Homo sapiens: one gene and its partners. The main gene of each other region encodes a partner of the protein of the gene in region 3 in a complex. Each region holds a gene or a part of one and is shown on either strand. Other genes may lie near its edges.

Region 1 (6,493 bases), on a different chromosome or scaffold from region 3:
CTTGAAAGTTACCAAGAGCCAGATGGTAACATTGCCCTTCTTTCCTGCAGACGAAGTTATACGGAAGCGTCTCCTCATTGATGGAGATGGTGCTGGAGATGATCGGAGAATTAATCTGCTAGTGAAGAGTTTCATTAAATGGTGCAACTCTGGGTCCCAGGAAGAGGGGTATTTCATTTTCACTGTTGTTTCCATACCAGTGTCCTAATGTGATTTTAGGCCCTATATTAAGGTCCTGTGAGTAGATCAAATTTTCACTCACCTTAAATGTACAGTGGAGTCAACTCTTAATTAACCAAGAGTAGATTTTCTTGGCCTTTTCTTCTCTTCAAAGGCCTCTCATATGTTTATTAAAACATGGAGAAGGCAGATTGGTAAGGAGAAATGAAGATTAAATTCAGACTCATTAGTTTGGTTACTTTTAGGACATAAGTGTTTAGTAAGATAAAATATCTAAATGGAATTTTCTCCTTTGCTAATAAAAGGCTGCTGCTATGTATGTATATATTAAGTTGGTGCAAAATTAATCGTGATTTCTGCCATTAACTTTAATGGCAGAAATGGCAGAAACCACGATTACTTTTGTACCAACCTGATACACACGCACACACGTATATCTAATCTTTTTTTTTGTGAGACAGAGTCTCATTCTGTTGTTCAGGCTGGAGTGCAATGGCACAATCTTGGCTCACTGCAACCTCCGCCCCCCAGGTTCAAGCAGTACTCGTGCCTCAACCTCCTGAGTAGCTGGGATTATAGGCATGCAACACCATGACTGACTAATTTTTGTATTTTAGTAGAGATGGGGTTTCACCATGTTGGCCAGGCTGGTGTCAAACTTCTAGCATTAAGTGATCTGCCCACCTTGGCTTCCCAAAATTCCAGAATTACAGGCATGAGCTACCACGCCTAACTATATTTATTTATTTTTTAACATAGCAAACTTTTTCTCATTTGAATTTGCTTTCCATATAAATAATTTTATAGAGTGAAAAAATTGTGGGAACAGAATTGTGAAGTTAAAAAAACATCTTAAAGTATTTCTAAAGTCTTTTAAACAAAATTCAAATAATTGTTTGAATAAAATGTGCATTGATAAGAACAACAATCCCACCTTTGCATTTGTAACTAAAGTAGTTAAATTCAAGAATACTACATTTGATAAAAAGAAAACTTAAGGGACAGATATTCTAAATTTTAAATAAGCAAATGATTCTCTCAGAACTTGCTATAATTTAATTAGCAAATATTTGTCTGCATTATAACAGTTCACTTTTGTCAGTCCACAAATATCTTTATTTTGGTTTTCTTTCTTTTTCATTAGATATAGCCAGTACCAACGTATGCTGAGCACGCTGTCTCAATGTGAATTTTCAATGGGCAAAACTTTACTAGTATATGATATGAATCTCAGAGAAATGGAAAATTATGAAAAAATTTACAAGGAAATAGGTAAAGAATCTTAATGTTTCTATCTGTAATTTTATTTTTTATGGTCTAAAGGAAACAATACCTGCTAACAATTTTCTTTGGTGGTAAAAGAATAATAACAATTACTGTATTAATGGAAAGAATACAGTAAATGTTAGCTATAAAAAATGTGTATTCTAAGATGATATAGTACTTTGGGTTACAGCTATTTTTTAAAAATACTAGTGTCTATTTTGTTACCAATAGAGGTTAATTTATAAATGCGTTTTAAAATTAAAAATGGATTATTGATTTTGTTACAACTATCTTTTAAAAAACCTTCTCATATAGAATGTAGCATAGCTGGAGCACATGAAAAAATTGCTGAGTGCAAAAAGCAAATTCTTCAAGCAAAACGAATACGAAAAAATCGCCAAGGTAAGGGTTTTGAGGGATTTAATGTGCAAATACATTATTACTGACTACAGTTTTCATGCAGTTTTTAATGTTGTGAGGTAAAATCTGCAGCCTGAATCAACCTGGATTAAAAAAAATCCAAATTTTAATTCCTTAAAACTATATTATTCTTTAAAATAGAGAAGGAAGTCTGTGTTGAGAAGAATGTTTTTGCTGGATTACATTGATTATCCAAGTATTTCTTTTCTGTTTTTCTCTTTTTTTTTCTTATCCCAGTATTTCTTAAGTATTAAATTTTTACCATCTTGGACCCTTTTGCCTAAATAATGTTATGGTTAATCAGCAGAGGCAATTTACATAAATATACTAGATTTATGGTTTGGGTTTTTTGTTTGTTTGTTTAATAGAGCTACTTTCCAAAAAATGAAATGGAAAAGAATTTAAACTCTGAGTTTTCATTAAGTACAAAGCAAGCAAACATTTCTAGACTGCCTAGAATATCTAATAAGAAGGTTAAAGTTGAGTTTTGTTATAATCTCTTGTTTTTAAGTTAGAGTATACCCTTATGTAGTTCCTAAATACTATTTCAAGATAATTTTTAATGTTAGAGGCACTGCTCTTCTTATAATGTAAATTGAAGAAAAGTAAAAATAAAAAATATAATGTGTAATCACAACTGTTACATTGATATGAAAAACTAGAAGAAAATAGAAAATGTTAATGGTTATTTTGAAGTTGTGGGTTTTTATGGCTTAGGTTCTTTTCTCTGTTTTTGTGTTGTTTTGTTTTGTTTTACATAGGGCATGTATTATTTTGTAATTCAAAAAATTTGTATCCAAAAGAATCATACTTTGAATTAATATGCTCAGTTCTAAAACAATGAATTTTCACTTTTTAATGAACTAATTAAGATGAAGCTTAATTTCCTCTTTTTACAAGTTTTTTTTTTCAGTTTAAAATGTGTATGGTGAAGTTTTGGTGCCTTATTTACAGTAACATATACCAACTTAGTATCAGTTCTAAAGTCATCTAAAAATATTTTGCAGTGTTTTCGTTGGTTAATGAGGCTTTTAAGTAAATCCTGCCACTCATCACTTCATAAGAAAGCTTAACAGGAGTTACATGACTTATCTTGGAGGTCTCAGTGGAGCAGAAAATAGAACCTGAATTTTAAGTTATTTGCAAGTTTCTGAAATCTTAACTTTTGGAATGAGTGAGAAGTGTAATTTGCTGTTGACTAACAACTCAGATTAATGGTAGGATATATTCACTGATTGTATTTTATTTTATTTTACTTTTTGGACAACTAGTGAGTAAGATCCTTCTCAGAATCAGTCTATTTGATAATCAATAATAACTTAAATTTGCTTATGCTTATGCTGACCTCTTACGTTCTGTCCAGGACATATAAATGGAAAAAAAGTGGGAGCTAAAACCCCTGTTTGGAACACTTTTGATGTTATGTATCGTTATAATTATAACTCAGTTAACTAAAACTGGCAATACTCATCTTTCAGTGATTTCATTTCTTGATGTACTAGGAAAGTGATTAGGAGAGGTTTGTGATATTACACATTTTGTTTTGATAATTCACATTCAAAAAATCCTTAGTTTGATAAATATTTTTATGTCTTACAGAATATGATGCTTTGGCAAAAGTGATTCAGCACCATCCAGACAGGCATGAGACATTAAAGTAAGTGTAGAGCTTTACTTTGAAAGGAACTAACCTTTATACATAAATGCTCGAAAACTACCGTAGGCATTTCATTTTTGCAGAAATAAATATGTTTCAAAAGGAGGGGTCAGATATTCAATATTATATTTTCCCATACTTCTCTGTTAGATTTTATTTTCCTCTAACCTTACCAGCTATATGTCTAAAATAAATGCATATAATATGCATCAATATCACAATGGATAAATAGAATATGGTCTTCATATATTAAAATATTGAATTTCAGTTAAAAAGAATAAACTAGTTATGCCCTTTTAAAACACAGCTCTCAAAACATAATCAGTGAAAAGACACATAATAAACTTTAAATTATATTTAAATTCCTGAAACACATACAGAATAATAACCATTTATAAAAGTTAGAACCCCCTTTCAAATATTATATACCAATACTGTGTATTATTCAGGGATACAAGTATATGCATAAAAAAGAATAAGAATGATATAGTAGTTGCCTGAGTGGGAGGTAGAGGAGATAAAAAGGCCCAGGATAGAGGACTAGGCGTAAGATTCAAAGGGTATTTCGAGTTAATTGGCAATGTTTTATTTCTTTTACCAAAATAAAAAACCCTCGAAGTTAAACTTCACAATATGTATCATTTCTTGGGTCTTGTTATTCTGTTATCTGTATTTTTCTGTACTTTAAAAATGGATCCAAAAATGTAATTTTAATGAAAGTGAGTCCATATTTAGAAGTTAAGAAGAAATCATCCTCAGCTTTAAAAGTTTCACCATAATGGAGTGTTATAACTCCTTATAAGCCCTTTTTTTATTTTAAAAATCCTATCTAGTAACTTAAAAGTTAGGCATTAATTGTAAACTCTTCTCCCCCATTCAGCAAAATGTAACACTGTTTTATTATTTCCAGGGAACTAGAGGCTCTGGGAAAAGAATTAGAGCATCTTTCACACATTAAAGAAAGTGTTGAAGATAAGGTATTCGCATATATATTTAGCCTTCATGATCTGTCTATCTGTCTGTCTATATATCTATATATACAGGTCATTTGTATAAATTTTTTTCTTGTTAACACAGCTGGAATTGAGACGGAAACAGTTTCATGTTCTTCTTAGTACCATCCATGAACTTCAGCAAACATTGGAAAGTAAGTAGAAATAGTCTCAAAGTAAATGCTTATGAAGATTTTTTAAATGACCCAGGGATGTACCTTTTGAAATATACATCTTGGAGAGACAGTATACCTTCAATTTCTGAACAGTGTAGCTGGATGACGTTAGAAGGTACTCATGTTCAACTTTCTTGAATACATGTAGAAAAGTCTTAATTTGTAGTAATATAGGATTTAAACATATACATAGTGGTTTAAATTAAGAAAAATTCAAGGATGATAGATTTGGAATCTTTCTTGGTTCACTGTAGTTGACTACTATAATATAACAACTCAGGACCCAGGCAGGCAATAATAAGAAATCAGTACATACGAACATTTGCATACCCACTGAGTAGTGGGTGCTTTGGGGAACTGGAGACTTGCTCTTTATATTCACTATAGGCAAGTGGAAATTTTTGTGTTACCTGATCTTCTGATTGTTTTAAAGAATAGCCTAAGACCCATTTTTTCTTTTCTTTTTTTTTTTTTTAAGACAGTCTTGCTCTGTCACCCAGGCTGGAGTGCAGTGGCACAATCTTGGCTCACTGCAATCCTCACCTTGCAGGCTCAAGTGATTCTCCTGCCTCAGCCTCCCTAGTAGCTGGAATTACAGGTGCATGCCACCACACCCAGCTAATTTTAGTATTTTTAGTAGAGACGGGGTTTTACCATGTAGGCCAGGCTGGTCTTGAATTCCTGACCTCAGGTGATCCACCTGCCTTGGCCTCCCAAAGTGCTGGGATTATAGGCATGAGCCACCAGACCCTGCCTGGATTTTTTTTTTTTTAAGTGAAGTCTATCACATAAATTTTAAAGTTTGATTCAACTAGTAGCCATCTTAGCTTTAATTGTATTGGCTAATAAAGGATAAACATGTTTTCATGTGTTCATCGAATATAAAATATAGGCAAACTTGACTAAGGTTTTATGTTTCCTTCTCAATTACAGATGATGAAAAACTCTCAGAGGTAGAAGAAGCTCAGGAAGCAAGCATGGAAACAGATCCTAAGCCATAGACAGGCTAATTGCCCACCACTCCCAGGAATATTGAAATAGCTACATGACCATAATGTGTTTAAAATGTGGTATGCTCTTGAGATATTTAAAGTTTTGGCAGTAAAATACTCTGTTTTTAAGTATGAATGTATTTCATTCATATTTCCTCTCACAAAGGAAAATGACTTCAGTATAGATTTGTTTTTATTAAAATGCATTTTTTATTCTTAAGTGGTAGGAAGCAACATCCAAAAATGCTTAATAAAATGCTTTTAAGCTGCATATGTTTGTGCTCATTAATATTCTAGGTAGTTTTTAACTGGTAACATTGATTGGCTTACAAAATAAGTTGAAAATTGTTAGAAGTTGGCATTTCTAGGATGTACATGGGAAAATGAGCCAATTTCTGGAAATGGTTACACTTCTGAAAACGGAGTCTATGAAGAGGCTTTAGGAGGACCATGAACCTGTGAAATTACATGCAAAATGTTAGTGGTGTATGCTTATTGTGGAGAGAGGTTCCAGGCTGTTAAAATTCGCTGGTATGGGACGTTAATTATAAGATGCAAAGTAAAATAGTGCACATTACTTTATATATCTCTCCTTAATATGAGAGGAATATGGTTCTCAAATGTTTTGTTGATCTGTTTTCTCTACTGTTTTGTTCTTTAGGAATCATTTTCAATAGAAAAAGATGTATTGATAAAGTGAAGAGTGTTTGAAGTAAATAGTTTGTTAAGATTGTTTTGCGTAGGCCAGGCATGGTGGCTCACACCTTTAATCCCAGCACTTTGGAAGGCCGAGGCGGGCAGATCACCTGA
Region 2 (3,436 bases), on a different chromosome or scaffold from region 3:
TGGTGATTTAACAGCCACCAAAGGTACCATTCTCTTCTCCTTGCTAGGCTCAGGTTTCTTTTCTTTTTCTGAATGGGGACTCACTATATTACACAGGCTGGTCTTGAACTCCTGGGCTCAAGCAATCCTCCTGCCTCAGCCTTCTGAATGGCTTGGATTATAGGCATGAGCCACCACGCCCAGCAAGGATCAGGTTTTCATCCGTAAAATGAACGGCCCTGCTAGGGGCAGGAATTTATTACTTAGCTCTTACTCTTAAAATCCTTATCCCTGGGATACTCAGTGGTCGGCAGAGAGACCTGGAGGAATAGCTTTTATACTGGAGGTCTGCATTATCCATGGAAAATCAGTAAAAGTCCACTTAGGGGGAATATGCTTATGATGGGAACCAAGCTTAACAGCATGTTGTGGGGGGATAAAGTTTCATCAGGACAATCACAAAAAATAAAATGTGTTTCCTCTTGGAGTTAGCAAACTATATCTGCAACTATGTAATAATTCTCAAATATTTTTACATTTCTACATCTTTTTTTTTTTTTCCAAGACGGAGTCTTGCTCTGTTGTCCAGATGGTGCAGTGGCACCATCTCGGCTCAGTGCAACCTCCGCCTCGGGGATTCAAGCAATTCTCCTGCCTCAGCCTCCCGAGTGGCTGGGATTACAGGCGCGCACCACCATGCCCAGCTAATTTTTGTATTTTTAGTAGAGACGGGGTTTCACCATGTTGGCCAGGCTGGTCTTGAACTCCTGATCTCAGGTGATCCGCCCACCAGCCTCCCAAAGTACTGATATTAAAGGCGTAAGCCACTGTGCCCAGCCCATCTTATTTTTTAAAATGAAGAATGGAGTACTGATGGTGGGGTCAAGATACACTTTTTGACAAAACTGTCCAAGAATAGTCTATGCCATCCTTTACTTTGACTTGCAGGAGTATTACAAAGGATGTAATTTTATGAACATTTTAAAGGTTGTTACCTATCTTCCCAAGACTTCTCTTAATCAAATAATTATATTTTGAGGCACTTTTGTCATTACCTTAAAGACTCTACTCAGGCCGGGTGTGGTGGCTCATGCCTATAATCCTAGCACTTTGGGAGGCCGAGGTGGGAGGATCATTTGAGCCCAGGAGTTTGAGACCAGCCTGGGAAAAATAGTGGGATCCCGCCTCTACAAAAAATTTAAAAATTAGCCAGAAATGGTGGCACACACCTGTGGTCCCAGCTACTTGGGAGGCTGAGGCAGGAGGATCACTTGAACCCAGGAGAGGTTGAGGCGGCAGTGAGCTGTGTTCGTGCCACTGCACTCCAGCCTGGACAACAGAGCAAGACCCTGTCTCAATAAAAAAAAAATATTCTCCTCAAATGTTACCTGGTCTCACTGTCCTGTATCTCTGTATGTGATTGATTCTCCAACACCACTCTCGCCATCTCCATGAAATCCTGTAAGACTTAGAATTACTCTCTGTGAAGTACAGTTGATCTCTGAACAATAGTTTGGACTCTGTGGGTCTATTATATGCAGATTTCTTTTTTTAAAATTTTTTAGAGATAGGGACTCGCATTGTTTCCCAGGCTGGAGTACAGTACAGGCACGATGAATAGCTCACTGCTACCTTGAACTCCTGGACTCCAGTCATCCGCCCACCTCAGCCTTCTGAGTAACTGGGACTATTGGTGCATACCACCACACCTGGCTGATTTTTAAATTTTTTGTAGATACAGGGTCTCTCACTACGTTGCCCAGGCTGGACCTGAACTCCTGGCCTCAAGGGATCCTCCCGCCTTAGCTTTCCAAAGTACTAGGATTACAGTCATGAGTCCCTGCACAGATTTTGTTCAATAAAAATAACAGTGGTGCCTGCCTCCCCCTCCACCTCCCCCACTTTTTCTGCCTCTGCCATCCCTGAGACACCAAGACCAACCCCTCCTCTTCCTTAGACTATTCAACCCTGAGACAGTATGTGAAGACCTTTATGGTGATCCACTTCTACTTAATAGTAGATATATATTTTCTTCCTTATGGCTTTCTTATTTATTTATTTTTGAGACGGAGTCTCACTCTCGCCCAAGCCGGAGCGCAGGAGCGTGATCTTGGCTTACTGCAACCTCTGCCTCATGGGTTCAAGTAATTCTGCCTCAGCCTCCTGAGTAACTGGGACTACAGGCATGCGCCACCACGCTTGGCTAATTTCCATGTTTTTAGTAGAGACAGGGTTTCACCATGTCGGCCAGGCTGGTCTCAAACTCCTGACCTCAAGTGATCCACCCGCCTTGGCCTCCCAAAGTGCTGGGATTACAGACGTGAGCCACTGCACTCAGGCCCCCTTGTGACTTTCCTTATAACATTTTCTTTTCTCTAGTTTACTGTATTGTAAGAATACAGTGTATAAGATACAAAATATATACTGAAAATATGTACTGACTATGTTAGCAGTAAGTAACTACTAATAGCATACTACTGGTCAACAGCAGGCTATTAGTTAAGTTTTTAGGGAGTCAAAAGTTATACACGGATTTTTCAACTGTGCAGGGCAGGGGGTGTTGGTGCCCCTAACCCCTGAGTTGTTCAAGGATCAACTGAGTTTGTCTTCTGTTTGCACTGCACTGTCAGACATTTATAACATCCAACGATCAGAGACAATTTGTCCATCGGCAACCCTGACAGGACTAATGGGAAGAGCGGGTGGGGAGGGAAGAGTTTTGCTTTTTGTGCTCTGCTGCCTTTGGCTTCTCCTACCACCTCTTAACAGCAGGAACTTGGGATAATAAATACAAGATCATGAGGACCTCACCCCGCAAAGCACAAATAGGGTGTGCGTAGACAAGAGGTGAGCATCTCTCTGCAGAATTGGAATCTTTTTCCACTCTGCTTTTATTGGCTGCTGAGAAAAAGTCTCTCTACAAATGCTTTTTCACACTGTGTCACAGCTCCCACCTGCCCTTCCAGACTGCAAAGCCACCTTGCCAGGAACCACAGACAAAGGCCACTGGTCAGGTGACGCTTTTTAATTGGCTGGTGTCTTTGGAGAATATCAAGAGTCACATGTGGGCCAGAGCAGAAAGCAGAAGCCCAGTGCTCAGGGTGAGGCCTTGGGGGAAACAACGGTCTGCGCGGGAGATCAGCGATGGCTGAAGAATCCCTGAGGATGGTTGTATTTAAATGGCTTCATCCTGCTAGGACCCCTAGAGAAATAGGAGAACGGAGTTGTTAATAACACACCTTCTAGGCTGATAAAATAAATTATGGTTCATTCACACAAGGGAAAAAGAAGAGGCAGAGTTACATGACACAGAATGTTGTTGAGAAAAGCATACGGCAGAACAACATATAAGGTGCGATACTATTTTTGTAAAAATGTCTTTTTGTGCTTGCAAATGAGTGAACACAAACTTGGAAAGGCCCTCACTGACAGTGGCACTTCGGGGACATAGCTTTAG
Region 3 (6,285 bases):
AACTTCTGGAAGGATATACATCAAAATTCTAATAGCAGTTACCTCTTGGTGCTAGGAATGTAATTTTTCTTTTTGCTTATCTTTTTCCAAAATTTTCTACCAACACTATTTCTATATGCCTCAATATTTGCTTTAACACCAAACAAAATTACAATATAATGAAAAACCACTGCTCTTAGGTAACAACCCTCCAAACATAAGCCCTTTTTTTTAGAGGGAAGAACTAATAAAGCTTTGCTTTCCATGAGGAACCAATAAGTGTTTTTCTTTTCAATAAGAAAGCTAAATGACTTACTCCCCTCTTCACTTTGCCACCAGGAAGCTCAGAGCCAAAATTTTAGTTTGGTCATTCAATTAGCTTTGTCCCTATATTTCAGAGGCTTCTTGGTTGGGACATTAAATGACAGAATTATAACATTTAAATTCTCTTTCTGAAATTAAAAAAAAAAAAAATACAAAACTGCAACTCAAGGACATAATAATTTTAAAAGTCTTAGAAGTTCCATAATAACAAAAGTCAGTTTATTAAATGCTCAATTCTCAAAATTATATATATATATTTTTAATTATTTAAAAAAACTTCCATGCCCTTCCATTCCCCTCCCTCCAAACTAGGTATTGTCCAAGTTGTATCAAATGCCACAAAGTCTACCATGCACCCAGAAGCAGAGAAGACAGGAGGTCCAGAGGACAAGGTATGGTGGGGTCACTACTCGCACTGCAGAGTCCACGCGAGTTAACTCATGCTGGGGGCAAAGAATGGAAAGAGCTAATACACAGACAAAGCAAAAGAATGAAATGCGCAGCCTGACCAGAGACGTTTACAATTTATACCAACTTACAAATATTTAGGGTGCCCACCAACTCCGAGAGAACAGACCAAACTAACCACATGAAGGAAGACCTCTGCCGGGGCCTCCTCTCCCTACAACCTCCTCTCAAGAATCATTAGGAAGCCCAAACAGCTTCACAGTTCCGGCTTCCCGGCTGCTGTCATATTTGCCGTCTTTGTCATCACAGGCAAATGCCAGCAGAGGCCTTTTGGGGTGCCACGCCACTGTGAAGGTCGGAGACTCACACTGTACCTCCCATAGTTTGTCCCCTACAGAAAACAATAGAGAGAAACCAATCAATACGTTCAAAACGAAGGACACATTCATTAAGTACTTACCAGTATTAACTGGTTTAATCCACCTACTAATCCCATGAGATAGATACAACTATTACCTCATTTTACAGAGAACCCCCAGGCACAGAGAGCCCACAAGCCAGTGGAGGACAGAGCCGGTTCTGAGCACAGGTGGGTTAACTCAAGAGCAGGTCACTGAGCAGGAAAGTGTCTCCGCGTCACAGGGACATGCAGTTACATGAAGGATCTGCATGGCTGGATGCTGGACAATGTTCACCACAACGTGACTAACAGGGGCATGCATTCTTTACATAGTGGAATTTCAAGTTCTTTACTTTCCTCTTCGAAGTTTTCTATACAGTTTTAATCTTTTTACGAAGAGTGTCAAAGATTTCCAAAAACAATAAAGCAACATTAAAAAACAAATCTGAGGAAATTCTTTTGCAAAATGAATACTCTCCTCCCATTTTTCTATTTCCAGCTTCTGTTGTTTTTAAAGCAAAAACTTTATAATTCCTCAAATTTTAAATAATATTTTTTCAAGTTCATATACAGGCAAAAGATAAAGAGAAATATATCACAACATTTAAAACAGGTGGTATTTAGAGAGTGGGACCCCAAGTGGTGCTTTTTTCTTCCTTCTACTCTGTAGTTTAAAGTTTAAATAAATCAAAATATTTTTCTAAATCACTTTCCTCAGACCTGCCTGTTTATTTCTTAACTCTTTGCTTCCTCACCACCTGGCAGTGACAGTCAAAACAGAAACATACTTGTCTAAAGGAGACAAATTCATTCATGATCATGCTGGTGAAGTAGTCACATGCAGAGATGAGATCACAAGAGAAGTCCTGACTGCCAAAGGTGAAAGACGGTAGATTCTCATGAAGTTACCTGTCTCCACTTCAGCAATGTCAATAAAATGATCTTCCGATGCTGACGCCAGCATTTTCCCATCATGGCTGAAACTGAGGGTTCTTACAGGCCAATCCAGCCTATGATACAGAGTGGACAGAAGAGACAAGAGAATTACCAAGTAAGAGGAGGGAACAATGTCACTCAAGATGAAATAAAATTAATGTACCCAACAAGGGAAGTGCTGATAGAGTCACTTACCTGGAAAAGCACCGAACACACACTAACTCATCCACATCCCAGAGGCTGACCAAAGCATCTGCACTTCCTGTGGCAAAGTACTTCCCCATGGGGTCAAACTTGATACAGATGCAGTTGGAAGGATGGGCGTTGATGGACTGCACAGGCTTCAGTTCTGGGTAGCTGAGAAAAAAGACAGCGATCAAACTGCAGAAGAGGACTGTGGTGCTGAAACAATAATAGGAGATGATGAAGAAGAAAAGCAAAGATAATAGACCACCACCAAGAACTGTCATTCAAGATAACATTCCTGAAATAAAAAAAGATTTTGAACTACATTATTTAAAAAGCACAACACATACCTGAGACTACAGAACCAAAGTTACCAACATCGAGACAGAGACTAGCAAAACTAGTGGACTTTAAAGAAAAAGAAAATTAGATTATTGGGCTTTCTGACAGCAACACTTAATGCCAAAAGAAAATGGAGTACCATATTTAAGAAAGATACACAAGCGAGAAAACGAGCCAAGGATTTTTACATCCAGCAAAACTGAATTTCAAATATAATGATACAAACAATAAGCACAATAACGTTTTATAAAATCTGTAAGTTTTAGAAGTACGTAAATAAGTTGTAATAAAAACTCCAGGAATAATGTTCCCATGAACGCTTCCCGAGGAATCTTAACTAGAGAATGAGCTTCAATTAAAAAAATGACTAGAGACTTATAAGGACTGGTGCTCAACACTGAATATACAGTTTCTTGCAAAAACTATACATGGTTTAAAGAGAGGGTATAATATGTAACATCTGCACATGCTTACAACATATAGTACTATTTTTTTAATGGGGGAAGAATGGAAAGAGTATATGCAAAAACCAAAAACATTTTTTGTTTCAAGTCATCACATTGGTGGTAGCAGCAGTAATATTGTTGTTCTGAGACATCTATATGTTTACCATGGGAGATAGGTAATAAGTAACCATCGGATATTCTAATTCTATGATCCCCTGTGCCCTTGAGAACCAGAATACTCAATTTGGGAGGAAAGAAATATATTTGTAATATAGAAGAGGTTTAGTAAAATCCCTGGAGTCCTCAATTTTGATTGCAAGTTATCAACATGAATTCATAAGGTATTTTATCTTTAAATATATATATATATACACACACACACACACACACACGTAATTCCTAGGCCAACCCAGCAGTAATGAACATTCCTAACTTCAGTATCATTTCTCAGTAAAAGAATGTAAGGCTCCTTTTTTTTTTTTTTTTTTGAGGTGGAATCTCACTCAGTCGTCCAGAATGCTGGAGTGCAGTGGTGCAATCTAAACTTACTACAACCTCCGCCTCCCGGGTTCAAGCGATTCTCCTGCCTCAGTCTGCCAAGCAGCTGGGAATATACACGTGCGTCACCACGCCCAGATAATTTTTGTATTTTGAGTAGAGACAGGGTTTCTCTATGATTGCCAGGTCTCAAGTGATCCACTCGCCTCGGCCTCCCAAAGTGCCAAAGTGCTGGGATTACAGGCGTGAGCCACCGCACCCAGCCAGAATGTTAAGGCTTCTTGGAGAATGTTCTGATTAAAGGTCTGGGGCAAGAAATGCACAAGATGAACTTGGAACATCTTATCAAACCAGAGAGCAAAAAAACAGAAGACGATGGGATTATGTCAAAAAAGGTCTCAGGAACCAACTTGAAGAGGTTCTTATTGGCCAAAGATGGGATAATTTGAGCTTCAACAGGCGTAACAATTACAAGAGATGGAAACACACCAACTATGTTTAAAAACATCAGCCCGTAATGATTCTTTAAAAAAAAAACACCTAACTGCTCATCTTTGGAGGTAGCAGGAAACAAAATCATTATCTGACAAACAGAATCAAAATTTTATCCTGCCTTCCCTACATGAACTACACTACTGGGTAACCAAATCGCAGATGAGAAGCAGCATCTCTTTACACAACAGTCCAACACATAAACAGCATATGGAATCAGCAAAAGCCAAACTGGGAGAATCTCCACAGGTTAACAGTCTGGTTTTTCAACAGCTACGTTTTCGGAAGTTTCTTTTGAGTAATTTAAGAGATACAAAAGACATATCAATTTTTTTTTTTTTTAATGAGCAAAACTAGGGTATCTAGGGGCTGCACATGTGGTAGATAAACTATGAAGAAACACTATAAAAGTCAGGATAGTGTTTGCTTTTGTGGAAGGAAGTTGTAATTAGGACAAATCACCTGGATGGACTTCTGGGATGGCTGGAAAGAACTACTTCTCAACTTGGGCGGGGTTGCACAAGAGTTAAGCCTATAAGAGTTCATTAAGCTATACATTTATTTTATGTGGTTTTCAATATCTGTGTTTTATAATAAAAAGATTTTTCTTAAAAAGTTATAGAATCCCCATTGCCTACAAAATAAAACCCAAGATACTAAGCATAAAATAAAGGCCTTTTATAATCTGGTCCCAAATTAGACTTCATCTTCCCATTATCATGCCCTCTCTTATTTCCCTTATCTGCCACCACTCCCCCAACAACCCTGACCTAACCACTCTCCAAGTAAGTCATGCTCACTCACACCTGCTTTGTCAGTTATGTGGTTCCCTTTTGCTTATTCTTAAAATTCTGCTCATCTTTCAAGATCAAGCTCACAAGCTCCCTCCTTCAACCCCCCATATAGTATGTCTGTTCTTTCCGTGGAATTTCACAGCAAACTCCTGGCCTCCCACTCACAGAACCTATCTCACTTGGTCTTGCATTGTTCACCTGGGATAGTGGAAGGCTAGAATTGAACAGACCTGAATTTCAGCTCCACAGTTTCATTCATTTACAGAACAAATATTTACTAAGATCCTACTACGTGGAGCAGGTACAGGACTAGACATTAGGGACTCAACACTAAACAAGGCAAACACCATCCCTACCATCAAGGAATTCACAGTCTAACAGGAGACACAGGCAAATAAACATGCAATTACAATATAGAAAGAAAAGTGCTTCCTACAGAAAGTATATAAAATACGCCTCTAACCTACCTCTAACCTTGGGGTAGCGGGGGAGCTTCCCTGAAGGCAAAGTGATATTTCAGTTGAAACTTTAAGAGTACGAATTAGCCAGAGGTCGGGCTAATCACCTGAGGTCGGGAGTTGGAGACCAGCCTGACCAACATGGAGAAACCCTAAACTACAAAAAATACAAAATTAGCCAGGTGTGGTGGCACATGCCTCTAATCCCAGCTACTTGGGAGGCTGAGGCAGGAGAATCGCTTAACCTCGGAGGCAGAGGTTGCGGTGAGCCAAGATCACACCATTGCACTGCAGCCTGGGCAACAAGAGCAAAACTCTGTCTCGAAAAACAAAAAAAAAGGGAGTACGAATTAGCCATAATTCAAGGTGCATCCAGTTCTAGCACACACTAGCTGACTACTGATGTAACCTCTCACCCTCAGATCCTCATCTGTCAAATGAGAAGCAAATCATCAACCCCTAGAATTTCTGTAAGGACTCAGTAAAATATAAAGTATATAAAATATACAGCTCAAATGTACTTAAGACAGGTTAGGATTCTCTCTTACTATTTGTGTTTTAAGCTCCTTCAGGATAGGCTCACATCTAATTCATCTCCATATCTGACACAGCACCCAGCACAAAGACATGACAGTCCCCTAAGCTAGACCCCCTCACCTGAGGATGTTGATACAACCATTGCCATTTGTCAGGAAGAACATATTATTGTCATTGTTCCAGGAGATTTCGTTGACCTCGAACTTGAACTGCTCTTCTGCTTTGGAACGGTGTGTCTTGGCATCAATAAAGGTCACCACATCATCCTTGTTGCCTACAGCAATGGTCTGCCCATCAGGACTCCAGCAGATATTAATGTTCTCCCCTGGGAACCCAGACATAATCAGCAAGATAATCTGTTTGCTCATAATCTTCCACAAGTTTATTGCACTATCCTAGAAAGAAGACCAGAGCTTTCTTCCGGGCTTACTCATTAAAGTCCTAGACAATGGAAGGGAGCTACCACTTATGATTCAACAATAAGT

The links. Proteins that work in one complex are often made in the same cells at the same time.
Region 1: THOC3 (region 3) and THOC7 share a complex: the UniProt entries of both Homo sapiens proteins name them as parts of the transcription/export (TREX) complex.
Region 2: THOC3 (region 3) and THOC5 share a complex: the UniProt entries of both Homo sapiens proteins name them as parts of the transcription/export (TREX) complex.

The regions. Positions count from the first base shown.
Region 1 is NC_000003.12:63,833,331-63,839,823, reverse strand, and holds the end of THOC7 (THO complex subunit 7), read left to right. Parts: intron 1-50; coding exon 51-168; intron 169-1,324; coding exon 1,325-1,452; intron 1,453-1,761; coding exon 1,762-1,848; intron 1,849-3,465; coding exon 3,466-3,523; intron 3,524-4,433; coding exon 4,434-4,500; intron 4,501-4,600; coding exon 4,601-4,670; intron 4,671-5,624; coding exon 5,625-5,692; 3' UTR 5,693-5,954; downstream 5,955-6,493. UniProt on the Homo sapiens protein: Component of the THO subcomplex of the TREX complex which is thought to couple mRNA transcription, processing and nuclear export, and which specifically associates with spliced mRNA and not with unspliced pre-mRNA.
Region 2 is NC_000022.11:29,505,340-29,508,775, forward strand, and holds the end of THOC5 (THO complex subunit 5), read right to left. Parts: intron 3,182-3,436; coding exon 3,118-3,181; 3' UTR 540-3,117; downstream 1-539. UniProt on the Homo sapiens protein: Component of the THO subcomplex of the TREX complex which is thought to couple mRNA transcription, processing and nuclear export, and which specifically associates with spliced mRNA and not with unspliced pre-mRNA.
Region 3 is NC_000005.10:175,959,031-175,965,315, forward strand, and holds the end of THOC3 (THO complex subunit 3), read right to left. Parts: intron 6,126-6,285; coding exon 5,921-6,125; intron 2,405-5,920; coding exon 2,243-2,404; intron 2,122-2,242; coding exon 2,021-2,121; coding exon of another isoform or gene 1,929-2,020; exon of another isoform or gene 1,160-1,928; intron 1,103-1,159; coding exon 939-1,102; 3' UTR 501-938; downstream 1-500. UniProt on the Homo sapiens protein: Component of the THO subcomplex of the TREX complex which is thought to couple mRNA transcription, processing and nuclear export, and which specifically associates with spliced mRNA and not with unspliced pre-mRNA.